Linked DNA regions of Homo sapiens. The protein of the gene in region 4 interacts with the protein of the main gene of each other region in a pairwise test. Each region holds a gene or a part of one and is shown on either strand. Other genes may lie near its edges.

The links.
Region 1: the proteins of BATF3 (region 4) and GPATCH2L interact in binary tests that used the Homo sapiens proteins (3 or more experiments, as listed by UniProt).
Region 2: the proteins of BATF3 (region 4) and STAT3 interact in a two-hybrid assay, tested with the Homo sapiens proteins (one large-scale study listed by BioGRID and IntAct).
Region 3: the proteins of BATF3 (region 4) and RHOXF2 interact in binary tests that used the Homo sapiens proteins (3 or more experiments, as listed by UniProt).
Region 5: the proteins of BATF3 (region 4) and BACH2 interact in binary tests that used the Homo sapiens proteins (3 or more experiments, as listed by UniProt).
Region 6: the proteins of BATF3 (region 4) and ATF2 interact in binary tests that used the Homo sapiens proteins (3 or more experiments, as listed by UniProt).
Region 7: the proteins of BATF3 (region 4) and EPAS1 come close enough for resonance energy transfer, tested with the Homo sapiens proteins (one large-scale study listed by BioGRID).

What each region holds. Positions count from the first base shown.
Region 1 is NC_000014.9:76,175,922-76,179,421, forward strand, and holds part of GPATCH2L (G patch domain-containing protein 2-like), read left to right. Parts: intron 1-701; coding exon 702-769; intron 770-1,970; coding exon of another isoform or gene 1,971-2,066; coding exon 2,067-2,121; coding exon of another isoform or gene 2,122-2,223; exon of another isoform or gene 2,224-3,500.
Region 2 is NC_000017.11:42,325,943-42,329,442, forward strand, and holds part of STAT3 (signal transducer and activator of transcription 3), read right to left. Parts: coding exon 3,468-3,500; intron 258-3,467; coding exon 174-257; intron 1-173. UniProt on the Homo sapiens protein: Signal transducer and transcription activator that mediates cellular responses to interleukins, KITLG/SCF, LEP and other growth factors. Once activated, recruits coactivators, such as NCOA1 or MED1, to the promoter region of the target gene.
Region 3 is NC_000023.11:120,157,390-120,161,412, forward strand, and holds the start of RHOXF2 (rhox homeobox family member 2), read left to right. Parts: upstream 1-1,223; 5' UTR 1,224-1,361; coding exon 1,362-1,440; intron 1,441-1,625; coding exon 1,626-2,037; intron 2,038-2,968; coding exon 2,969-3,014; intron 3,015-4,023. UniProt on the Homo sapiens protein: Transcription factor maybe involved in reproductive processes. Modulates expression of target genes encoding proteins involved in processes relevant to spermatogenesis.
Region 4 is NC_000001.11:212,689,841-212,693,340, reverse strand, and holds part of BATF3 (basic leucine zipper transcriptional factor ATF-like 3), read left to right. Parts: intron 1-973; exon of another isoform or gene 974-1,077; intron 1,078-3,500. UniProt on the Homo sapiens protein: AP-1 family transcription factor that controls the differentiation of CD8(+) thymic conventional dendritic cells in the immune system.
Region 5 is NC_000006.12:89,926,028-89,929,843, reverse strand, and holds the end of BACH2 (transcription regulator protein BACH2), read left to right. Parts: 3' UTR 1-3,316; downstream 3,317-3,816. UniProt on the Homo sapiens protein: Transcriptional regulator that acts as a repressor or activator. Binds to Maf recognition elements (MARE). Plays an important role in coordinating transcription activation and repression by MAFK.
Region 6 is NC_000002.12:175,158,204-175,161,703, forward strand, and holds part of ATF2 (cyclic AMP-dependent transcription factor ATF-2), read right to left. Parts: intron 1-3,500. UniProt on the Homo sapiens protein: Transcriptional activator which regulates the transcription of various genes, including those involved in anti-apoptosis, cell growth, and DNA damage response.
Region 7 is NC_000002.12:46,377,407-46,380,906, forward strand, and holds part of EPAS1 (endothelial PAS domain-containing protein 1), read left to right. Parts: intron 1-487; coding exon 488-681; intron 682-1,250; coding exon 1,251-1,361; intron 1,362-2,820; coding exon 2,821-3,311; intron 3,312-3,500.

The DNA.
Region 1 (3,500 bases), on a different chromosome or scaffold from region 4:
TACTCAAGTTAAATGAAGAGTGAATTGCCGTTTTCCAATTTTTTGGAAATGGTTCGTTTCTGAACTCTTTGTGGTGTTATGGGTAAGCTTTTACACTATAATCTTGAGAACCCTGAATTTAGGAATCAATTTTATACAAATTTCTATTTTTATTTCATGAGATGATGTTTGAGGGACAAAGTACAGAGTAACAATTTTTGCAAGTCACAAAATTCTCTTGATGTATTTATATTTAGTCAGCAGATATTTACATTTTACCAGTGAGGATTTGGTAATGTCCCAGGATGAAGGCTGTTGGAACTATAATCAAATCACGTAGCTCTCTAGGAAGCTTGGTGTGTTGGCCTGTTAAAAATTGGCTACTGTTGAATTTTCTAAAAAAGGATTTTTACTCCTATATACTTCAGTAGTTACAGGAGGTATAGTACTTATTAAAATACCATATATGGTGAACAGTGTCTATGATGTATTTATAAAGACTTTTGGATCACTGGAGAATAATAAATGTAGGGTAACATGTAATACTTTTAAGATGGATTCCAATAAAAAGAAGTATAGTTGCTGTTTTATTTTAAGATTGACTTTTAACATGTGCCTTTTGAGGTTGCCTTAGCTGGCACAGTTATGGGAAAGATTGATATTGTACTTTATATGTTTGTTTCTGTGGTTGGATGATACTCTTGTCTGCCTTTTCTTTTTAGGAGACCAGCATAAACACTTTGGGGACTGAGAGGATAAGCCATATCATTAGTGACCCTCGGCAGAAAGAGTAAGTGCTTATGTATTTACTGGCTGTGCTAGTCTGCTCCTTGGAGGAGGAGGCAGAGGGGAGTTTTATGGAGCAACTTAGAAATCAGGCTTCAGAGTTCAAAGAGATCTTAAAGATTTGTACGTTGTAACAGTTAAATATGGCAACATCCTAAACCTGTGGCAGTGATTTTCTTTTCCTTTCTAGACTAGTTTCACTGTATTGTTTTTTTATACCTACAGATGCTGCATTAGTAGCCTCCAGTAAAGATGTTTATTTTAAACTAATTTTTCTGTCCCTAAATTTTTTTTTTTCCAAAATGGATGATTGCCTCTATCCTCCTATATTCTCTTCCCATTTTTAGACCTTTTCATAGGGAAATATCTGTTTTTTTGAGACAGGGTCTGGCTCTGACGCCCAGGCTGGAGTGCAGTGGCAGAGTCATGGCTCACTGCAACCTCTGCCTCCTAGGCTCAAGCAATCCTCCCACTTTGGCCTCTTGAGTAGTTGGGACTACAGGCGCATGCTGCTGCGCCTGTCTAATTTTTGTATTTTTTGTAGAGACAGAGTTTAGCCATGTTGTTCAGGCTGGTCTTGAACTCCTGGGCTCAAGCGATTTGCACACCTTGGCCTCCTAAAGTGTTGGGATTACAGGTGTGAGCCGCTGCGCCCAACCTGTGAAATATCTTTTTGTTCTAATTACTGTGGTGAGTGCTGTAGGAAGCCTGTATGTAGCTACAGGAAAATAATTCTGCCAATTCTTGTGACAGCCTTGTCCCCTAAAATGGTTGGTTCTTTCATATATCTTGTATGCATCATGGTCAGTACCCAGTTATGATCCTATACACATCCAACTCGGGCTAATTTTACATAGAAAATAAAGATGTGGGTGTGGTTTATGCCCTTCATGAGTTGAGACTCTTGTCACTGCACAGCTGAGAGATCATTGGTGTCACAGTGTAATCTTGGGTTTATTTCTGTTGTTCAGTCTTTTACATTCCATTACAAGCCTTTTTCCTTTGAAGAGGTTTTTTTTTGTTTTTGTTTTTGCAAAACATTCACATACATTTAATCTCTTTCTCCTCCTCTGATTACATCTTTTCTCTATTCCCTTCTTTGTCTTTACTTAATTATTCCAACATCTTATCTTCTTCTCCCTTCTGTAATTTTCCTATCACTTCTTTTATTGTTTTCTTTCCTGTTATTCTCTCCCTCTCTTTAGTTTCTGGTTACCATCAGCTGGGAAAAGAGAACGAAATCAGGTAAGATCATTTTTCTTTGTCATCTTTATTTTATCATTTGGTTTCCTTTTCTTTAGAAAGAATAAAGCGTTGGCTTCTGATTTTCCTCACATTTCTGCTTGTGCACATGAGGTAAGGTTTCCTCTTTCTTGTTATTTTGATTTTCTTGGAGAACCGTTTTCTAAGAGTATCCAACACTTACTGGTAAAAACTGCAGCTAATTCCTCTTTGTAGGTTCAACTGTGATCATTAGTTTCTTGTAGCATATATTTCATAGGAATCCTGTTTTTATTTTAGTTTTGAACTTTGCAGTAAGAAAGCAGAATGAATCTGATTTGCATATGGTTTAGTTCAACATCAGAATCCTGCGTTGAGAAGTACTATGTTGAAGCCTAAACGTATGGAGCAGAAGGTAGAGCTGCTTTGGGTGAAGTGGGGTCAAAGCCTTAGAGCAGTGGTCCCCAACCTTATGTCACCAGGAACCATTTTTGTAGAAGACAGTTTTTCCATGGACCCGGGTTGGGGGCGTGGTGAGGGGGGTGGTTTTGGGATGATTCAAATGCATTACATTTATTGTGTACTTTATTTCTGTTGTTATTACATTGTAATATATAATGAAATAATTATACAACTGGTCATAATGTAGCTTGTGCTCCTGCAACTACACAGTCCCACCTGGGGGTGATGGGAAACAATGACAGATCATCAGGCATTAGGCTTTCATAAGGTGTGCACAACCTAGGTCCCTCTCATGCTCGGTTCACAGTAGGGTTTGCACTCCTATAAGAATCTAATGTGGCTGTTGATCTGACAGGAGGTAGAGCTCAGGCGGTAATGCCCACGATGGGGAGCAGCTGCTTGCTGACAGCTCACCTCCTGCTGTGCGGCCCCGGGGTTGGGGACCCCTGCCTTAGAGCCTCTCCTTCTTAGTCTTTTCCCTGGCTACCCCCTGAGGGGCCCCTTGGCATATTTAGGCCCATGTGGAGGGCTCACAATTTAAAAATTAACTCACAGTGGTTATCGATATGTTTCTTTATGTGTGAAGCTTTGTGATTTTTTTGGAGGATTGCATTATCTTGGTGATTAGTTGTAAAATAGATGAACACTGACAGGTGAAAAGTTGTAGGCTTCCTGTTTGTTGTGGGTTTTTTTGTTTTTTTTTTTTAACAACTTAGTAGCTTACTGAGTTGATATACACGATCCACATTTTAGACTTGGAATCTTCATTATGAATTTGCTGTTTCAAAATGAACTAGAGTGGTAGAAGACATAACTGGTGTATATGTATGAGATGATTTTAGATGGCATATAGATGCCCAATTTTTAAGTTATGTATTATAGTGTACATTGGAAAAGATGTAATTATGGTATCAAGCCTGTTATTTCACGGAAATATAGTAAGGACAAAGCTGAGCAAAAATAATTGATATGAGGAAAAATAATAAGTAAACAGTAGTACAGGTTGTAGGCAGATAAGGAAAGTCATGAAGGTGGTATGTGAGAGACTGCAG
Region 2 (3,500 bases), on a different chromosome or scaffold from region 4:
CTTTATTGCCAGATGGGATGCCAAGGATTTTTTTGGAGAAAAGTAAGCAAAAATAAACACAGTGTTAAGCAAACAGTAATCATTCCACCTTCTCTTGTAAAAATCCCAGTGGAAGTTTTTGTCCTGAGTCACCCCTGTACGTAGCCTCTCACCGATTCTGCTGCAGAACTTACCTCTAGGTCAATCTTGAGGCCTTGGTGATACACCTCGGTCTCAAAGGTGATCAGGTGCAGCTCCTCAGTCACAATCAGGGAAGCCTACAGTAACGAGAAGGACACTCTTAGGCCAGGTGTGGTGGCTCATGCCTGTAATCCCAGCACTTTGGGAGGCCAAGGCAGGAGGATTGCCTGAGCCCAGGAGTTCGAGACCAGTCTAAGCAGCACAGCAAAACTCCATCTCTGCAAAAAATACAAAAATTAGCTGGGTGTGGTGGTGCACACCTATAGCCCCAGCTACTCGAGAGGCTGAGGTGGGAGGATGGCTTGAGCCTAGGAGATGGAGGCTGCAGCGAGCTATGATTGTGCCACTGCACTCTAGCTGGGGTGACAGAGTGAGACCCTGTCTTAAAAAAAAATTAAATTAAATAAAAAAAAAGGCTGAGCGTGATGGCTCACACCTACAATCCCAGCATTTTGGGAGGCCGAGGCAGGTGGATCACATGGTCAGGAGTTCGAGACCAGCCTGGCCAATAATTTGGTGAAACCCCGTTTCTACTAAGAATACAAAAATTAGCTGGGTGTGGTAGTGGGCGCCTGTAGTCCCAGCTACTCAGGAGGCTGAGGCAGGAGAATCGCTTGAACCCAGGAGGCAGAGGATGCAGTGAGCCGAGATCACGCCACTGCACTCCAGCCTGGGTGACAGAGTGAGACTCTGTCTCAATCAATCAGTCAATCAATAAAAAAGAGAAGGACACTTTTCCTCAGAGAGAATGGCATTCAGTACTAACAGCCACAGCCAAGGAAAGTGACATGCCAAGCCTCACCACACCAAGAAGGGTAAGCCACCAGGTGGTCACAAACAAACTGCCAGGGACACAACTTGCTCGGCACTTACTCTCTTCAACACCAAGAACTTCCAATGCTGTGATCCTCAACCTAATCCTTTACTCAGTTTGTATTATAATATTACATAGATCCAATTGGTTATTTGTAAAATACGTAAGGCACAAAGAATAACAAAACAATATGAACCCACCATTCAATTTAAGGAAAAGTCCATCACTCCTAAAATTCTCTGGGTGCCCTTCCCCAACCCCATCCCCTTCCCTCCTCCCTCAGAAATAACTGCTATTTTGTCTTTTGGGTTTATCATTTCCTAGCCCTTTTTGTCTTGTTTTGTTTTGTTTTTTTACAGTTTTACCATATTTGTTTATCTAAGCAATGCAGGTATTGTTTAGTTTGGGACATTTGTGAACCTTACACTTATGGACTCCAATGAATTCTTTTGGGATTCACTTTTCACTTGATGTGAAATGAATCCACATGGTTATGTGTATCTGCAGTGTATTCCTTTTCACAGCTGCGGAGTATTCCATTGTGTCTATACCACAAATAATGTATTCATTCTAATGTTGATGGGTATTTATTTGGGTTGCATTTAGAGCTTATAATCAGGCTGATGTCCACTTTATATATGTCTCCTGGGACATATATGCAAAGATTTCTCTGCTATTAAATCCTGGGAATGGCACCGTTGGTTTACAGGTATGTTCATTTTTATACTGCCAAATTGTTTTCCAAACTGACTACAACAATGTCTCACATCAGTACAGCAACCTTATTTTAAGTAAGAGTTGTCAATGAATTCTCAAAAATTGAATTCTAGTCTGGGCACAGCGGCTCATGCCTGTAATCCCAGCACTTTCGGAGGCCGAGATGGGTGGATCACGAGGTCAGGAGTTCAAGACCAGCCTGACCAATATGGTGAAACCCTGTCTCTACTAAAAATGCAAAAATTAGCCAGGCGTGGTGGCATGCACCTATCGTCCCAGCTACTTGGGAGGCTGAGACAGGAGAATCGCTTGAACCTAGGAGGCAGAGGTTGCAGTGAGCTGAGATCGCACCACTGCAATCCGATAGAACGAGACTCCGACTCAAAAAAAAAAAAGAAAAAAGAAATTAAATTATAATTCATTTTTAATACTATTTTTCTGATTATAAAAGTAATATATTCAGTTTAAAATGCAAATATCACAGAGACAGTCTAGAATAGCCATGGATACCAACAGCAGCACTAATACACATAGCACTGCTGGTATATTCCTCCAGAATTTCTTAATATACATATGAATACACATAAGAGTATAGTGTATTTTTAAAACACATATACTAATAATACTATTCAAATTATTTTACATTTTGCTTTTTCTTAATATGTCATGTACATTTTCCCATATCATTGCATACAGGCTACTTCACTCTACTGTCAAGTAAAATTCCACATTTTTAAAAAGGACTGCTACATTTTATTTTATTTATTTTTTTGAGACAGAGTTTCACTCTGTTGCCCAGGCTAGAGTGCAGTGGCAAAATCTTGGCTCACTGCAAGCTCCACCTCTCAGGTTCAAGCGATTCTCATGCCTCAGCCTCCCCAGTAACTGGGACTACAGGCGTGCACCACCACACCCAGCTAATTTTTGTATCTTTAGTAGAGACGGGCTTTCACCATGTTGGCCAGGCTGGTCTTGAACTCCTGACCTCAAGTGACCAGCCTGCCTTGGCATCCCAAAGTACGGGGTGTGAGCCAGCACGCCCAGCTAGGACTGCTACATTTTAAAGAGGAAGAATTGTTCAGGGGACAAATGTAAGAAAAAGAACGGGGCATCACAATTTTTAAAAATGACTGAAAACTAGCCTTCCGTCACATTTACCTTTTTTTGTTTGTTTGTTTAAAGTTTATTCTTGACAATAAGAATCCAATAATCTGAATCAATGAAAAGCAGAAAATAAGGGGGATAAAGAACAAGATGGGTTTTTGTTTGTTCATTTTATTTTATGTACTCTTTTCCTAAGCAAGCTAATGCAAGGTGGTCATTTATTTTAAAGTTTAACTCAAATCTGTTGCTTTTACACCCTCTATCCCACCTCAGTGGGAGAGAAAAACAGGGCACTAAAAATGGAGCCAAGCAGGGTCAGCCGCAGGAGCTGGATGGGGAATTTGGAAAGCCCCAGGCAAGGTGGAAAGCTGCTTTATACCACATGGGTGTGGAGAACAACTCAGCAAGGGACTTTCCACTTCTCCTTAAGGAGGAGCCAACTCCCAGATATTCACGGAAATGTTCCAAGCCAGAGAGCTCCATGGCACATGGAACTTCTGTTCATGTCACTTTGGCCTGAAGTGACTTTTTGGAATAACTACAGCTGAAAGAACAGGTTGATGTTTCTAATTCTGGGGATTAAGAAGGATCTTTACCCCTCTCTCCCTCAAGGAAAACACCCCAGTTGTCTTTCATCCCCAACAAAACTTACATCACAATTGGCTCGGCCCCCATTCCCACATCT
Region 3 (4,023 bases), on a different chromosome or scaffold from region 4:
AGGTAAGTGCGCATTTGTAATGGGTCTGTAGCCAGAGACATAGCAGAAGCTGCGCTATCCACAGTCACAACCAAAGGCAAAGGAAGGATGCCCTGCAATTTTAGAAATCTTGGCTGCAGCTGGGAACGGTGGCTCACGCCTGTAATCCCGGCACTTTGGGAGGCCGAGGTGGGTGGATCACTTGGGGCCAGCAGTTCCAGACCAGCCCAGCAAACATGGTGAAACCCTGTCTCTACTAAAAATACAATAATTACCCAGGTGTGCTGGTGCGCACCTGTAGTTCCAGGTACTCGGGAGGCTGAGGCACTCCTGAGTACCTGCACAATACATGCAAACACCCACCCCATCCTACTCCCCGGCCCCCCCGCCCTACTCCCCCCCTCCACCCTACGCCCCCCCGCCCTACTCCCTCCCCCGCCCTACTCCCCCCACCCCGTCCTACTGCCCCCACTCCAACACGTGCTCTCCCGTGCCCAAGGCAAGGCCAAGCCCCTGAGGCATGCGCACCTCAGCAGGCCCAACCCACAGCAAATAGTGGGAAGAGGAAAGGCAAGAGAGGAGGTCTCTAAGTGGATACACTGTTACTGAATCTAGGTACCCAGAAGATGGAGGTTGTAGTGAGCCCAGATAGTGCCACTGCATTCCAGAGACAGAGCGAGACTGTCTCAAAAAAAAAAAAAAAAAAAAAAAAAGAAAGAAAGAAAGAAAAGAAAAGCAATCTCGGATGCTCTAAGCATCATTGTGCATGTTTCCACCCTTGCACTTTGATGTGGATTCATTACTAAGAATTAATAGTGGACTTTCTCAAGGAGTGTGCTGCATTTTTACATAGTGCATTTGCGCAGCCCACAAGCTTTGCAAATCCAGGCCCAAGCTCCTGCTCCTGGAGACCTAGGAAGCATGGGGCTAGTGCAAAATCTCCCTTATCGCCATAAAATGGGCTTGCACAATTCAGCACAGCAGCTTCCCCCAAGTTCCACACTCACGCATGCCTGTCTACAGGACAACGCATGCAAGCACGCACCCCATCCTACTCCCCCTCCCACGCCCTACTCCCCCCTCCCCCACACCCTACTACACCACTTACCCCTCCCCCCCCACACCACCAACGCGTGCTCTCCCTCATCCGGGCAAGGCCAAGCCCCTGACGCATGCGCACCTCAGCAGGCCCAACCCACAGCAAATAGCGGGAAGCAGAAAAGCAAGAGAGGAGGTCTCTAAGTGGATACACTGTTGCTGAGTCTAGACACCAGAAGAACGTTGCAGGCGGCGACTCACAGTTCTAGCACTGCCTAGGAGAGCGTGGTGGCCCCAGCTCAGAATCTGCAGAAGTGCACAGCTCCATCCACACCACTCAGGGTATGGAGCCTCCGGACCAGTGTAGCCAGTATATGACCAGCTTGCTCAGCCCTGCAGTCGACGACGAGAAAGAACTACAGGGTCAGTACCTTGATGGGACACATGCTTTTGCGAACTCAGGAAACCAAGGTTCTCTGGGAGAGGCGAGTAGACTGGATGATACCCCTGCACTACCACTGCTCTCAGAGTGTAGCCCCTCACCACCTCCTTCCAACACCCTCAGGACCAATGCCTTGATCTTTCTCTTGGGGTTTCTACTTTTCCAGATATGAATGCTATGGTGCTGTCGCTTACTGAAGAGGTCAAAGAGGAGGAAGAGGATGCACAGCCTGAGCCTGAGCAAGGCACAGCAGCAGGAGAAAAGTTAAAGTCGGCAGGAGCCCAAGGCGGAGAAGAAAAAGATGGCGGCGGAGAAGAAAAAGATGGCGGCGGCGCCGGAGTTCCTGGCCACCTATGGGAAGGAGACCTCGAGGGCACCAGCGGCAGCGATGGCAACGTTGAGGACAGCGACCAGAGCGAGAAGGAACCTGGGCAGCAGTATTCGCGCCCACAGGGCGCCGTCGGGGGGCTGGAGCCTGGCAACGCGCAGCAGCCCAACGTCCACGCCTTCACCCCATTGCAGCTGCAGGAGCTGGAGCGCATTTTCCAACGCGAGCAGTTCCCCAGTGAGTTCCTGCGGTAAGCCCATTGCTCTGGTTGGCGCGCGGTTTGCAGGGAGGCGGCGTTTGGCTTTCCCGCAGTCCCTCTCCTACCCTCTCCCCTCCTGAACCAAAACCCATCTGGGGCCTGGTGTTGCTGCCGTCCCCTCCCCGCAGACCCCTGGCACCTAGTGGGTTCTGTAGTGGGGCTATGCCTATTAGGCATCATGCAGAATTTAAATGAACCAAGTTGGGCAACTTTGGGCTGAGGTCAGTTATGATAAATAACTCCTATCCCAGGCGAGGCAGAAATAAAGATGAGGAGATTAAGGTTCTGTACAGCAAGTGCAGGGTCGCATTCTGACCTTATTTAAAATTCTGAGAAGTCCGTCGTTCGTCTGGGTTTCCTTTGGTGTTAATTTTTCTAAGTTTCAAATAGTAAGTTAGAATGTCATTTATATTGATTAACGATTTTTTTTGTTATGGGGGGGTTATTTTTTTATTTTTTGGAGAAGGAGTCTCGCTGGGACACCCAGGCTGGAGTGCAATGGTGCGATCTCGGCTCACTGCAACCTCTGCCTCCCAGGTTCAAGAGATTATCCTACCTCAGCGTCCCAAGTAGCTGGGATTACAGGCGCCAGCCACCACGCCCGGCTAATTATTGAATTTTTAGTAGAGACGGGGTTTCACCATATTGGCCAGGCTGGTCTCGAACTCCTGACCTCAAGTGATCCTCCTGCCTCGGCCTCCCAAAGTGCTGGCATTACAGGCGTGAGCCACCGCCCTGATTTTTTTTTTTTTGGCATCTCCTTTATTTGTGGCATGAGAGAAATGTTCCTAATGTGAGGCTCAGCTGGGTGTTACAGAACAGCCTACTGGGTGTGGGGAGTTGGTAGAATAAAAAAATTAAACACAAGAATGAAACGACACCCACAACTCCAAATGCTGAACACGTGTGGTTTCTTCCATAGAAGGAGGCTGGCAAGAAGCATGAATGTGACTGAACTCGCAGTGCAGGTCAGTAAACCGAAAAAGCAATCGGGCAGGGGAGCCATTCTAAAACCCGCTTCAGGGCTTGGACACACTTTGACCCAGACATTGCCATCTTGGTGTTTTTGTGGCCTTTTTCATGTATAGGCAATGAGGTCTGAACTTTGGGATCTTTGTGGCTGGAAAATGCAGTAAGGAAAGCTCAGCTTGTGGAAATTTCCCATTACCAGAGGGAACATGACAATCCACGGAAAAAAAAATGAGTACTGAACTGTTTCCTTTATTCCTTGTGTATAAAATATATTATACACTTGAATAAATTACAAATATATAAATATATGTATTCCAAATTACAAATATATATAATATATAACAGTATAAATTAAATATAGCATAATATATAAGATTGAATTCCTAGCACTGGTATCCTTTAGGTAGCACTTCCATGTGGAGGCATCCTGGGGTTTTCTGACATGGGGATTATTCGAACTAATGCTCCAAAGAGCTCCATTAAACTAAACTATTTAATATATTTAAAACCAAGCATAAACTCTTTGGTTAAGAATTTATAAATGTTTAGGCATTGGGGTAAAGGAATAATTCCCAACCAGAACGTATGTTTCCTTAAGCTGAGACTGATGGCGGGGGATAGCATAAAGTTCAAGCGCCTGGCCCTCCTACTATTGTTTTTAAGTATTTGGTGAAGCCTTGTAGAGAGTGGCAGCTCTAAATTTTAATTTTCTGGAATACTTTGATATGGCAGGCTGAAAACATTGCTGACATAGTTGGTTTTGCATTATGGTAGAGATAGCGAAAAGGCTTGCAACCTTTGCAAGTTTATCTAGAAACCAAAACAAACTACAAGATCAATTTTTCATAAATTTCCACCAACCTAAGGATGGAAGTGTTAGGCAAGAATTGTATACAGTCACACTCATGGCTTGGGGAAGCTGCCCCCATTCAACTTTTGAAGCTACCAAATGCATCAGTGAATATTTTCTTGATCAATTTCTAGCATTTAAGAGATTTTTTGTTT
Region 4 (3,500 bases):
AGCGGGTGAGGAAGCAGACGACTGGCTTAGGAAAATGGAAGTATATCCCAAACCTTCTGCAGAACCAAAGGAACATCATCTCTGAACCAAATCATTACTCACCACGTGAGTAATCCCTTCCCTGTTCCTTCCAGGAGGGCATTGTAGCTGTGTGTATCATTGGATGACTAAATCTACTATTGGAGGCAAGGTATCTGGTTTAAAAATGGTGTAAAGAACCCTTTTGTCAAGCTCCAGTGAGTTGAGCACAGAGCGCCTTGCACACTACTGCGGGCCATGACAGAAAGCCCCTTGGGACCCCTGGACCTCCCAGGCCAATCTAGGGTGGGGACACCATGCATAGGAACCTCCTCCTCAAATCTGGAGTGAGGCCAGCTCATTGGGAGACACCAGAGGGCCCAGAAAACAGCCACTGACAGCCACTGCCTGCTGCTCCCTGGAGACTGTAGCGCATCAAAGGGCTTTCTTCATGTGTTCCTCTATCCCACACTGCAGGGATTGCATTCCTGAATATCTCAAAGTAACTCAAGCTCTTTACTTGCATTTCTTGCATATCCTGAGGGGGGATATTTGGAGCAAACTTGTTTAAAGTTTCCACTTTTTGGTCAGGCACAGTGGCTCGTGCCTGTAATCCCAGCACTTTGGGAGGCTGAGGCGGGTGGATCACTTGAGGCCAGGAGTTCAAGACCAGCCTGGCCAACATGGCGAAACCCCATCTCCACTAAAAATACAAAAATTAGCCAGGTGTGGTGGCGTGCGCCTGTAGTTCCAACTACTCGGGAGGCTGAGGCAGGAGAATTGCTTGAACCTGGGAGGTGGAGGTTGCAGTGAGCCGAGATCACGCCACTGCACTCCAGCCTGGGCAACAAGAGTTTCCACTTTTCTCTCCTCACCTCACTCACATACTCTACCTATACTTGAGCCTCTGGTTTTTTTGGGTTTTTTTTGCTCTTTCGTCTTCCTGGGTTTTTAAAAAAATATGGAACACTTTATGAATTTGCATATTATCCTTGCTCAGGGGCCATGTTAATCCCTGTATCATTCCAATTTTAATGTATGTGCTGCTGAAGTGAGTACTTGAGCCTCTGTTGCCTCCAACACCCTGAGAAACTTGCCCCAGCTGCAGCTCTTAGGAGTTTTTCGGCCACCTCCCTCCCCTCCTTGTTCTCCATCTCCAAAGTCCTAGGAGTGTCCGTCAAGGCGAGCCCTCTGTGGAGGGGAGAATGGGGGAAGAGGCTGCACAGGCCAAGCCAGAGAGGCAGGGGCTGGGGTTCCCCTTCACGCAGAGTTTTCTGGGCAGTGGTTGCTGGCAGTTGGACTACGGTGATGAGAAGCAGTTCTTAACGTGTGTCTGTAGACCTCAGAGTCCACTGTGGGCTTTCAAATCATCCCTTCAACCCGCTCACACCTCCCGTGGGGATTTCGACCTGCATTCATCTCTGAACACTAGGCGTGTGCCAAAGTCCACACTGACAAATGAGAACCAAAGTGAACAGTCAGGGTCTCGTCTCATCTCACCCAGGCTGAAAGGTGGCTCAGAAGTGGGTCAGACTGGCTCGACCAGGCACCCCAAAGGTGTAAGACTGAGAAAGAATTTTGAGTCACAAAAGGAAAGCAGCAGTGCCATCCTCAGGAGCCCCAAATGTCACAAACTGACAAATGACTTGGGCAATGTGATTGTGGTATGTGTTGCCATGGTTTTTTCAGATATTGCATGTTCTGAGAGCTTCATGGCAGCACCCATGTGGCTTAGAAACTGATTGTGGCACTCATTTGTACAGCCCTTGCTGGTAACACAATTTTTCTGCTGGGAAGTGCATCAGTGAAGGCTTGGGAGTAGACTTATTCTGAAGTCCTGAGATCTTATGGCCTCTTACTTCTGGTAACCATCATGGGGAAATCTGGACCCAGGCACTGCTAACTAAAAGCAGAATTGTTGATGCTACAAGAGAGTTGCAGTTGACCTTGAAGTTAGGAGTCAGATCCCAGGTCTATGTGACCTTGGAAAAGTCACTGTACCTCTCAGAGCTTCAGTTTTCTAACTTGTGAAATGGGGTCTGTGTGTGGCTATGGCCTCCTGTTAGCCTGTTCCTACTTCTTTCTTTCTCACCTTAGTTGTCATATCTGGTCCCTGGTACCCACTTCTTTACCAGTCCTTGATCCTGTCTTCAGCCTCAGAGGCATCCTGGACCCTGCGTATCCCTAGGCAGCCCGTTGATCCCAGTCACCTGCTCCTAGATGCCCAGAACAGGGTTTCTCAGCCTCAACACTGTTTATGCATGGGGCAGCATAATTCCTTGTTGTTGGGGGCCTGTCTTGTGTGCTGCTGGATGTTGAGCAGCATCCCTGGCCTCTAGCCACATGATGTAGTAGCACCCCCGACCAGCTGCGATAACCCAAACTGTCTCCATACACTGCCAGTGTCCCCTGCAGACTGCCACAATTGCCCTACTTGAGATCCACTGCCTTAGGCAGCTTAATTTCTGAGGCAGAGCTGGGATCCACAGTGATTTCACCACCTCTAATTTTTAGGTGTCTGCTTTGAAACTGTCCCGACAAATACCCAGAGAGGGAGCACAGCAACCTCAAACCCTCCCATGGCAAAGGATTTGGAACTTGGCAGAATTCGAGCTAGAGGGGTCATATTTTTGGAAATAATGAAGGGTTTAATGTTCTTTGCTTGCTTTTTGTTTGCGTTTACTCCAGGAATTTCTTCTGGGTGTGAGGTGGGTTTCATTTCTTCCCCCTTTGCTGCTATTCAGTGTTCTCTGGCCTCTTCTTTCTTCCCTCCCAGCTCCTCTTGTTATTTTCAAAGGGCTCGTCTCACCTAAAGATTTTGACTTCTTCTCTTCTTGTTATTCCCTCAGCTCAATAAAAGTCCCTCAGCGGGTTTATGAGTAATGCTTAAATCCTAGAAGAGAAAGTCCTTATGGAGAAGGCAGATGAGGGGCCCGTGGGGCACCTGTCGGGCGGCTCTGAAGACTCTAAGCATGGGTTGGGGGAGGGCAGTGGACCTCAGGGAAGCCTCAGGCCACAGGGCTGCGCACGGCTTCCAGAGACAAAACTGGGAAGCTCAGAGCGTCTTGCTGCGGAATTCAGTATATGTAGAAAGGCAGCTTGGAATATTCTACCAAAGGAAGAGGGCTTCTTGTCCTTTGGAATCTACTTAAAATGTTAGCACATTGGAACTATTCAAATGTACTCTCCATTTTACTTGAAAGTCAAGGGCATTTCCTGCTGCAGGGTGGAGTGTGTGTGTGTGAGTGTGTATGTGAATGTGAATGTGGGGAGTCTGCATGTGAGTCTGAGTTTTTGTGAGTGTGTGTGACTGTGTGAGGTGTATGTATGTGTGTATGACTGTATGTGTGTGACTGTGAGAGTGTTTGTGTGACTGTGTGTTGATTGTGTATGTGTGTGAGAGTGTCTGTGGCTGGGTATGAGAGTGTGTTTGCAGATGTGTGTGTGACTGTGTGTATCTGTGTGTGTGTCTGTGGTTGTGT
Region 5 (3,816 bases), on a different chromosome or scaffold from region 4:
CTGCTCATATCATAACCAGGTCCAACCCAGCTTCTTGGCATGAGGTTTACCCTGGTAACAACTCATGTGCAACTGGTAGTCTTGACCACATTCCATCCATTTCCTCAGGTTTCTGTGGTTCAGTAGCCCAGACCTGTTTGGCAGCCATTTCTAGCAGGGGCGGGGCCTCTTTATTTCTCTCCACCCTAACTCAGACCTCACCTTCCTCCCACCCACCCCTGCCTTGCTTTTCTTCCTCTTCCCCCAACCTAACTTCTGCCATGGGAACTGGTTAAAAACACTGCTCTAAAAACCATCTTCCAATTTCATAGAGATTTCTCACAAGTTATTTCATTCATAATCCACCATGAACAGTGACTAGCTTCGTGCAGTTGTTCATGTGATGTGTGTGTGTCTTTTCCTATTCAGAACTATGTGCTTGTCAAAATTATTTCTGGGTTGATTCAAAGGGAGGACTTGCTGGGGACCAGAATCCAAACGGCCTCAAGTGGAATTTTAAAACCTAGCCTGTCTCTTTTCCCTGGGATCCCTCTGTCAACCCCACGCCTTTTAGGAAAAAGAAAAGTGAGTGAACAGCAAGGAAGAGTGTTTGCACAGTACAGTAACATTTGGTTGTTCTTAAGGCTCTTTTCTTACAAAAATAAGAGACCCTCCAACCACGGGCTGTTTAGGAGGATGCCTGCTTGGGTCTCCAAATGGCTGGGGTAGGAATGGTTGTTGGGGCAGAGCCAGTGGAGGTGAGTGACCCTGAGACTAATGAACATCCCACCTAAATCCAGTCCTCCCCTTGGATCTGCCTTTGTCCTGCTTGTGTATCCAGGCAACCTCTTTTCAAGTTGGTCAGGCTTTGGACAGGTGAGTGATTTGCTGTATGTGTTTGTTTCTCTGCGTTACCTGGGGGTGCCTTGATTAAAATCGAACTTTATTACATACTGATTCTGGAACAAAACAGTTAGAAAAACTTTAAAAAAAAAAAAACCGACAAAGTTACGAGGCCATCCTGCTATTTATCTTCTGAGTTCCCAGCAATGACTCAGGCATCAGAGATGATGCTGCAGTGGAAAACCTGACTCTGTGTGTCTGCAACTGAATGTTGTGCGAGTAATTTATTAACTGTCTTTCTAAAGGTTTGCTGCTTTTAAGATGCACTATAATTCGGGATGTAATCCTTACATTGCTTTTCCAAGGAAGGGAACAAAAGTCTAGTGATTAGTATGCCAACTGCCACTACTCCTTCAAAAGGAGCCAGGACCAGCGACAAGACTCATGAGAGGACTGGCTAAAGTGAAGTGTGCACAGTGTGAAGTTTAATGCTGTTGTCAAGAGGCCTAAACCCACATTTTCTCTTTTAATATTTTATGATTGCCATCAAAGAAGAAGAAAAAGAAGGAACAGACAAAGGTTTGAAAATGATAAGCCTGTTAAGACACCAAAAACTCCTGTCCCGTGAAGCTGCTTGACATCCTGTGGAGTAGCATAATCCTCTCAAAATGAGGAAGAGCTGCCTGCAAAGCTTTCTCAAGTCCCTATTTGGCTACCTACTTCTCTACATTATGCCCCATTTAAACTAGGAGCTGTCTTAGAAATGACTTCAAACTGCTTCACTATTGCTTACAGTTTAGGAGGAGTCTCAGATCCAGAAGGAGCAAGAATCAAGTTTGGTCCTCAAATGACTGTAAATAGACTAAAGAACAAGGTGTTTTTTGTTTTTGTTTTTGTTTTCTAAGAATAAAGCTGTTCGTTGTATCATGAGTTAGTGTTTCTTCCCCAAACTGAAGACTGTGTTGGAAGTGCAATTTCTGGTGAGTCAGTCCACAATACAATGCCCTGTGTGGAGTTGGTATTCATACAGGAAATCTGTGTGCACGAGGCATTGTGTGTTGAAAGTGTATGTTTATAGTACTGCCTGAGCCATCTCATGACCCCAGCGTCCAAAACCGATGCTGTAGAACAGAACATATCTGTACACAAATAGTGTGTGCAAATAGCATTTGTACATAGAAAAGTCTCATTGTGGCAGATTGAGCATAAATTATTCAACTGACGGTGCAAAAACATTACTTGCAAAGAAAAGTTTATAGTATTTTCCTACACTCCACCCTGGGAGATGATATTTCTATCAAATGAATATCAGTGCATTTTAAATGTAATATGAAAACGATGCTGCCATTTTGTGAAGAATACCCACTTGGTTGCAGAGGCCAACTTTCATAGCTTTGATTTAATGTTGTGACACGGTGTATGCATTTTGCTGTCAAGCAATGGATAAACAGCTCTGACTTTCATTCTCATTCCAGTTTATTGACCTCAGATAAAACACTGGCCCTTCTTAGAAGCAGAAGTGTGCACCAAGACCATTCATTTCAGGTAGACTCACATTCAGTGCCAAGTGCTCCCATGGGAATAATCAGACGCATATGTTGCGAAAGAGTGAAGGGACTTGGACAAAGAGGGGTTTTCCTACAGATGGATGCTCAGTCTTCTACCAAAACATGTTTGGAGGCAGAACTATGACCTCCCCTTAAGTCCTAACAATGTATTTTGTGTGTGCAAATCCTGGGATGCCCGTTTCACGCTCTGACATAAAGACATGGCACCTCTAGTGAGTGATCAGGAAGATTCCATATGCATTTGGGAGCTTCAGGTGCTTGTTAGACACAGTGAGCCATTCAAGGCAAGCACCACCTTTGCTAGTGAGGCCAAGAGAGCCTGTGACAATTTGACAATTTGTTCCAGAACCAGTCTGATGCAAGTGCACCTCTAATATATGCCTTACAAACTCCAGAGGCCATATTCAAAACAGGGTCTTCTCAGTGTATGCAAGGGGCTGCAGCCCCTCTTCTCTTCCTCCCCAGGTTGAACAATACGGACAGTTTTCACACATATCTACCTGTATAACCCTCTGTACCTCTCATAACTGGTCAACGACTGTAACAGGTTACATCAGGTGTTTTTCTACATACTTTTTACACAGATTCTATGCGATTAATGTAATTTAATTCAATGCATCATTTTATTGTACTAGTTCTTAGGCTTGTCCTTATTTTTTTCTAAGTGATTGTGGTTTTTCTCGTGGTTTTTATTGTAAAAAATGAAAGGCTGTTGATGCTTATTCTCTGTAACTAAGAATTTTTACCTTTTGGGGGAAAAAAGCATTGCTATGAACTAATGAATTGAAACTTCATTTACTCATTGTAAATACACTATTGTGCAAAAAAAGTTTTCACTCAATTGAATTGCTAGTGTTAACTGAATTTTGTCTAGACACCATTTCTGTTGATGAAATAAAGACATATCATTATGCATTGTAAACTGATTTTCTCTGCCTCTGATCCCTATGTTCCAAATTACAGAGTGAGAAACCTCAGGAAATCTTTTTTCCTAGAGGCCATTTCTCTTCCTCTAGTTTGGACCCTTACTTGCTACCTGATTAATCTGATTAGGAATCTTTAAAATTGGATAATATTAATGTGATTCCTAAACTCTGAATTTTAAAAATCCCTAGTGCCTGTGAGAGTAGATAAAAGGCTTTAAACCCAATTTCTCGGTTTTGATATTGTGCTATCGCTATGCAGAATGTTACCACGGGAGAAAACTGGGTGATGGGTATCATTTCTTGCAACTGCATGTGAATCTGCAATTATATCCAAAATAGGCTGAATTTTTTAAAAACTAAATGAAAGTAAATGAGAAAGAACATTAAGCCAACACCAAGATGCAGTGAGTTGCAAGGAAAGATGTTTAGAATTGTGGTTGAGGAATCCATACAGTCATGCATTGGTTAGTGAAGGGGGTACGTTGTGAGAAATGCATCCT
Region 6 (3,500 bases), on a different chromosome or scaffold from region 4:
CTCTCAAGACTAAAGTATTTTGAATTCAGGATTTTTTTTTTTTTTTTTTTTGAGACAGGGTCTTGCTCTGTAAGTACAGTGGCCCAACCATGGCTCACTGCAACCTGGATCTCCTGGGCTCAAGTGATCCTCCCACCTCAACCTCCTCAGTAGGCGGAACCACAGGTACACATGCCACCACACCCAGCTAAATTTTTTTTGGAGTGACCGGTCTCACGATGTTGCCCAGGCTGGTCTTGAATTCCTTGAGCTCAAACTCTTATTTTAAATTATCCAGGGATAATTTTAAAATGGATAACTTAAAATGGATATTTTAAATGGATAATTTAAAATAAGAGTGCCTTAAAGCTTCCTGATCCTACGGCAAGAAGCAAACGTCTGGGGGGAACACTGGAAACTGAGGTCATCTCTACAGGAACCCAAGTGGATATTTTAAATGGATAATTTAAAATAAGAGTGACTTAAAGCCTCCATTAATCAAGGCAATGATCCTCCTGTATTAGCCTCCCAAAGTGCTGGGATTGTAGGTGTGAGCCACTGCCCCTGGCCAGGAAAATTTTAAATTGTATGATTACACTATGATCCTCTACAGTAAAAAAAAAAATACATTTCAGGGCTATCAAAATATATAAAAGTAACATATGTAAAATACACAGAATAGTGCATGACACTAAAATAGTATTTATTAAGTTCATAAATTTTACTGCATTTTACTTTGACTTTAAATGTACATTTTTCTAATGCCTAATAAATACCTAATCTTACTATCTTCTTTATTTTTAAGGCCAGAAACTGAACTACATACTCAGTTTGACTTTTAGATAAGAGTTTTGGCCAGGCATGATAGCTCAACCCTGTAATCCCAGCACTTTGGGAGGCCAAGGTAGGCAGACTGCTTGAGGTCAGGAGTTCAAGACCAGCCTGGTCATCATGGAGAAACCCCGTCTCTACTAAAAATACAAAAAAATCAGCGGGGCGTGGTGGCGGAGACTATAGTTCCAGCTGCTCAAAAGGCTGAGGCATGAGAACTGCTTGAGCCTGGGAGGTGGAGGGTTCAGTGAGCTGAGAACCTACCACTGTACTCCAGCCTGCGCGACAGAGCAAGACTCCGTCTCAAAAAAAAAAAAAAGTTTTATATTAATCTTTAACCCATGATTCTGATGCTATCTGTAAGTTTATTTGATATATAATGTTTAGTTCATCAATTTAGGTAACTCAAATTCATCAGCTGAGAGAAAAATATTAAGCCCAATGTTAACAAGGAAAGCAGCAGTATTTTTTCCCCCACTCACAGCAGACATGAGAGAGGTCCTTCACACAATTCCCAAGAGTATACTAAAATTTTGATGAAATTTCTCAAAGTTGATGGTACACGTAAAAAGTATCACAAACTTCTCCAGACTGTATTATGAGTATGTGAAGAGTGAAATCAGTTCAATATCTCAAAAATATTCAATTAAAATATCAGTAGTCCAATTTTTAAATTAAATATTTTTTAAGTGAGTCTTGATTATTCCTAGGCAATGTAAAGAAAGCAAGTAGTTTTATAGTTTAAAATTATAATAGAATAACAAATACATAAATACAAAAAATTTACAGAGTAATAATTATGAATATAAACAACAGTAGCACAAGTTGTGCTAATAACATCACCTTAGATTTGGTAACAGAATTATGTGGTCTAAGGTCCATAGCATTATTTTTGCCCAAGGTAGGTGATAAAATACCTTTCATTGCTTTTTTTCTCCTGAGAAACTTATTTTTTGTAAAAGCAAAAAGAAAATAGAAATAGAAATTCAGTTCTCCAAGAATTACAGTAATTCATAGTCATCACCATTATGAAAAATACATCAATAAAAATTTCTCATTATGAAGAGGGCACAAATAAAATACACTACCGGCTTGGTGTGGTGGCTCACGCCTGTAACCCCAGCGCTTTGTGAAGCTGAGATGGGAGGATTACTTGAGGCCAAGAATTCAAGACCAACCTGGGTAACATAGTGAGACTCCATCTCTACAAAAAATTAAAAAATTAGCTGGGTATAGTAGCACATGCCTGTAGTCCCAGCTACTCGGGAGGCTGAGGTGGGAGGATTGCTGAAGCCCAGGTGTTTGAGGCAGCAGTGAACTACGACTGCACCACCACACTCCAGCCTGGGTGATAGAGACCCTGTCTCTAAAAATGAAATAAAGTAAGACTATGGATTATGTACTATGCCCATTAAAACAATGATAAGCTCACCTCTTTCTTCCGTTTTCAAAGTATGTCAAAATTCAAGTAAGTAAAGTGTATTACTACAAAAAATATCCCTCGACCCAACATCCATATATCAACAATCATTAAAACCTACCTTACAAATGATAAAATATTTCACTGATTCTCAACTTTGTGGCCAAAAATTGATAGTGTAGTTATAATTGTATAATTAGCAGAGACTTCAAAACAACTTTAGAACTGTGGTATTTTAATCATAATCTCAATCCCACTATGGGGAAGGAGAAATGAAAGGTTTCCCTAGAATGTTTATAATAGGATTGGTGGAGTAGAAGAAAAGAATAGTTGGGGTGGGGAGCAGCCTGTAATCCCAGCACTTTGTGATACTGAGGTGGGAGGATCGCTTGAGCCTGGGAGTTTGAGACCAGCCTGGGCAACGGCAAGACCCCATCTCTACAAAAATTTAAAAACTAGCTGAGTGTGGTGGCATGTGAGTGTGGTCCCAGCTATTTGGGAGGCTTAGGTGGGAAGATCTCTCGAGCCCCAGAGGTGGAAGCCGCAGTGAGACTTAGTCGCATCACTGCACTCCAACCTGCATGACAGAGTAAGACTTTGTCTCAAAAATACAAAGATAATTGGATTTTATGAAAATCACAGTATCATAATTTTATCATCTTAAAATAAGGATATGCTATACTGAAGGAATTTGATACAGAAAATGTCTGAGAAGGGGTACATATGGAACAAAAAAATATGAGACATTCTCTCAAATGAATTTACGAAAATTCTAAGGTGGCATGTTCCTCCACAAATTATAAATTCTTAGGGAAAAATAACTTTGTTGCCAAAGCTACCAAGTAGATGGTTGCTGTACTGCTTTCAAGCTACAGCACAAGCATGCCTGGAGGGCTAGGCTAGATTATTTCTGAATGAACTTCAATAATAATTCCCACAACACAAACTGAGTACTCATTAAGTTCTTGACACTGTATTAAGTATTGTATATATATCACATGAATGCTCACAGCAAGACTATGAGTTAAATTATTCTCCTTAAAGAGAAGGAAACTGAGGCAGAGAGGTTATATAATTTACTCAAGATAACACAGTAAGTGGTAGACCCCTGATAATCTGGCTTCTAATAACTATCCTAAAATATTGATTACACACTTAACTATGTGCCAGGGACAAAACTCAGTCAATTTGGCTATCATATACTCATATACACTTTCTTTATTCCAAGTGTTTCCTACATGGAAATGAATTTGTCATTATAAATCTTAAT
Region 7 (3,500 bases), on a different chromosome or scaffold from region 4:
CCGGAAGAGTGGTGCTCACCCTGGACTGTGTCAGCCCCTTTTAGATGGGTTCTACAGCGGCCACGTGAGGATTGCAGCTAAAGAGAATCTGAAACGCAGCGGGCCCTTGGCCAGTAGGTCTCGCGGCTTGTTTTGTGGCAGTACTGAGGCAAATAGCTCAATAGCCCAATTCTCCTCTCCCTCTCATACCTTCCTTGTCTACCCTTCCGGATCTGTTCCTCAGGGAAGAGTGGCTCCTAATATATTTAGTCTCTGAAAATTAAATGTCCCAGGAGACTGTTCCGTTTAAAGGGAGTCTCTACGTTGACTCATAGCCAGAGTCAAAGACCCATGTGTTCCAGCTGAGCCCCAGGGTGTTGGGGGGGCCTAGCCCCAGGCATGCCTTCCAGACCCTCTTAGGGCCTTCTCTGCGGTTTTTGGGCCTCCTCTGCCTTGGGGTGAGCCCGATGGTTGTGGGTGTTCACCTCCCAGGCCCTTGTCTCCACAGGGAATCAGAACTTCGAGGAGTCCTCAGCCTATGGCAAGGCCATCCTGCCCCCGAGCCAGCCATGGGCCACGGAGTTGAGGAGCCACAGCACCCAGAGCGAGGCTGGGAGCCTGCCTGCCTTCACCGTGCCCCAGGCAGCTGCCCCGGGCAGCACCACCCCCAGTGCCACCAGCAGCAGCAGCAGCTGCTCCACGGTGAGCAGCCCTCTTATGGCGAGGACACAGAGAGGGCTCCGTATGTATGACTGCTGCCAGATGGCTGAAGGGACATTTGGGACAGGTACTGTCCTTCTCAGGTTATCACAGAGCCCCCTAGAGTGGCCGTGACACTTACCTACCAGGTATCAGAGCTGTTTTCTTCCTTTTAGTGTTCATCCCCCAACTCCATTGAAATAAGCTCCTTGAAGGGCTTTGAGCCCCCAGCTCAGTCCCCATACAGGGCAGTAACATCCCGTATGTGGCACAGAGCTGCACAGTTTGCACAGCCCTGCTGGCCACAGCCTGTATCCTGTTTGGTCCTCAAGACAGGACAACCTGTGAAGCGACAGTAGCCTCATTTTATGATGAGGAGACTGGAATTTAGAGAGGTTGATGAATTGACCTAATTCATACAGCTTGTTAATTAGCAGCCCCTCTACAAATAGTTGTGTGGTGGAATGGAATTGAACCTTTGGGTCCAGGAAGGTATTTCTTCTTCCATGCTGGACTTCTGGGGAGACCAGTGCCATATCTTTGACTCTGTCCCCCTCCTTCCTGGCCCCTAGCCCAATAGCCCTGAAGACTATTACACATCTTTGGATAACGACCTGAAGATTGAAGTGATTGAGAAGCTCTTCGCCATGGACACAGAGGCCAAGGACCAATGCAGTACCCAGGTAGATGGCTGTGGAGATCAGGCTAGGGTGTGTGCCTGCTGTCTGGTGGACAGCAAAGGCTCACATCCATTCTTGTAGCCTCATCCCTTTGTTGTAAAGAGCAGTGGAGACGTTTGGCCAAGGCCCAGGTCCCCTAAAGAGGTAGGGGTACAGGGTAATGGAGCCTGTGGTCACCCCCTCCTCCCACTGTCAAATCCAGCTCTTCCAGCATATGTGTCTCCTACTTAGATAGCTTTCTTAGCACACATGAAAACCGAAATGATACCACTGCACCTTTCTTTAAACAGGCCCTACATTTAACAAGCATAGCCAGATGTATAAAACATGTATAAACATAGGGGACAATTAATCCCTTTATAAACACATTCATCTTGTGATTTTAAAAAAATAATCATTTTTATATGAAATGCACTTTAAAATAAATAACATCTGTTTGACAATTTTTCATTTACATAAAACTTTTCAGGAACACATTTATTACATAAGGCCAATGTTCTTGCAAAAACTATGTAAACAAGGATAAGGTAGAGGGAGGGGTACGTGTTTTACAAAACCCCAGGGAAAACCATTAATCCCCCATTTGTCTTAGTCTTGAGTTCAACCAGATTTCTGCCTTGCCACTTAGTTTGTTTCTTGATCCTACTTGGCACAAATCCCAGCTACTCTGCAAAACATGCCCAATTTTAGCTTTTCTATCACCCTCCCTCCTCAGCACTCCTGTAGTATATATCATGTGGCACTTAATCACAGCTATCTGCTTCTGCTCCTTAAAGATTGCTTAGTATTGCAGTCATTAGTCAGCTGACACCCACTGAGGGTGTCAGTCTCTGAAGTTAGAAACTGTTTTCCGCATCTGCTTGTATTCCCCTGCTTGTATCATGCGTCCGTCATGATACTGCCACCCTAAGGGATGATCTGAGTATCTGCTGATTGGAACCAAAGTCTCTGTCCCTGGGGTCTGGCTGTTAGGCTGTTACTCTGCGAGAGTCCACAGATGGACCTGGGCACTTACTGCTTGCTTAGGCCCGTGCCAGCTTACAGGAGGGAGAAGAGGACAAAAAAAAGCCACAGTGTGCACCACAGGCCTAAGCATTGTAGGACAAGGATAACCACCACAGGCTGGAGTAGGCAGGGCTGACTCTGTGGAAGAGGGGCTGCCTCGGCTTCAAGAGAGAAGGCGGGCTCCGGACAGGTGGGATGGGGAGAGGAGAACATTTCTCAATGTGCAGGGTGAAGAGGGGATAAACATGGGGGAAGGCTGGTACATGATACAAGGTCGTGTACATGACACAGCCAAGTCTGAGGTTTTCCTGATAGGCCCTCGGGAGCCAGTGGAGGCGTTTGAGCAGCACTGTGAAACAGTGCTTGAGATGAATGGCTCTGCAGGAGCTGAGTTGGAATAGTGTTTGTGAGGTCGTACCAACCCCCTTGCCTCTTTGCCGGTGCTGTCTCCCCTCAGACGGATTTCAATGAGCTGGACTTGGAGACACTGGCACCCTATATCCCCATGGACGGGGAAGACTTCCAGCTAAGCCCCATCTGCCCCGAGGAGCGGCTCTTGGCGGAGAACCCACAGTCCACCCCCCAGCACTGCTTCAGTGCCATGACAAACATCTTCCAGCCACTGGCCCCTGTAGCCCCGCACAGTCCCTTCCTCCTGGACAAGTTTCAGCAGCAGCTGGAGAGCAAGAAGACAGAGCCCGAGCACCGGCCCATGTCCTCCATCTTCTTTGATGCCGGAAGCAAAGCATCCCTGCCACCGTGCTGTGGCCAGGCCAGCACCCCTCTCTCTTCCATGGGGGGCAGATCCAATACCCAGTGGCCCCCAGATCCACCATTACATTTTGGGCCCACAAAGTGGGCCGTCGGGGATCAGCGCACAGAGTTCTTGGGAGCAGCGCCGTTGGGGCCCCCTGTCTCTCCACCCCATGTCTCCACCTTCAAGACAAGGTAAGTGGCAGATACTCAGCTGTACCAGCAGGGCCGAACCGAGAGGCACCCACTAGTAAGATAGCTGGACCCCCAGGGAGGCCCCTGCCCCTCTCCCCAGCCATCTGATACCCCATTTAGCCCTTCTCTGAGCTCAGACTTTGGGGAATCACCTCAAGCCATGTGAGGCCTAGTGTAGGATGGGTTTTT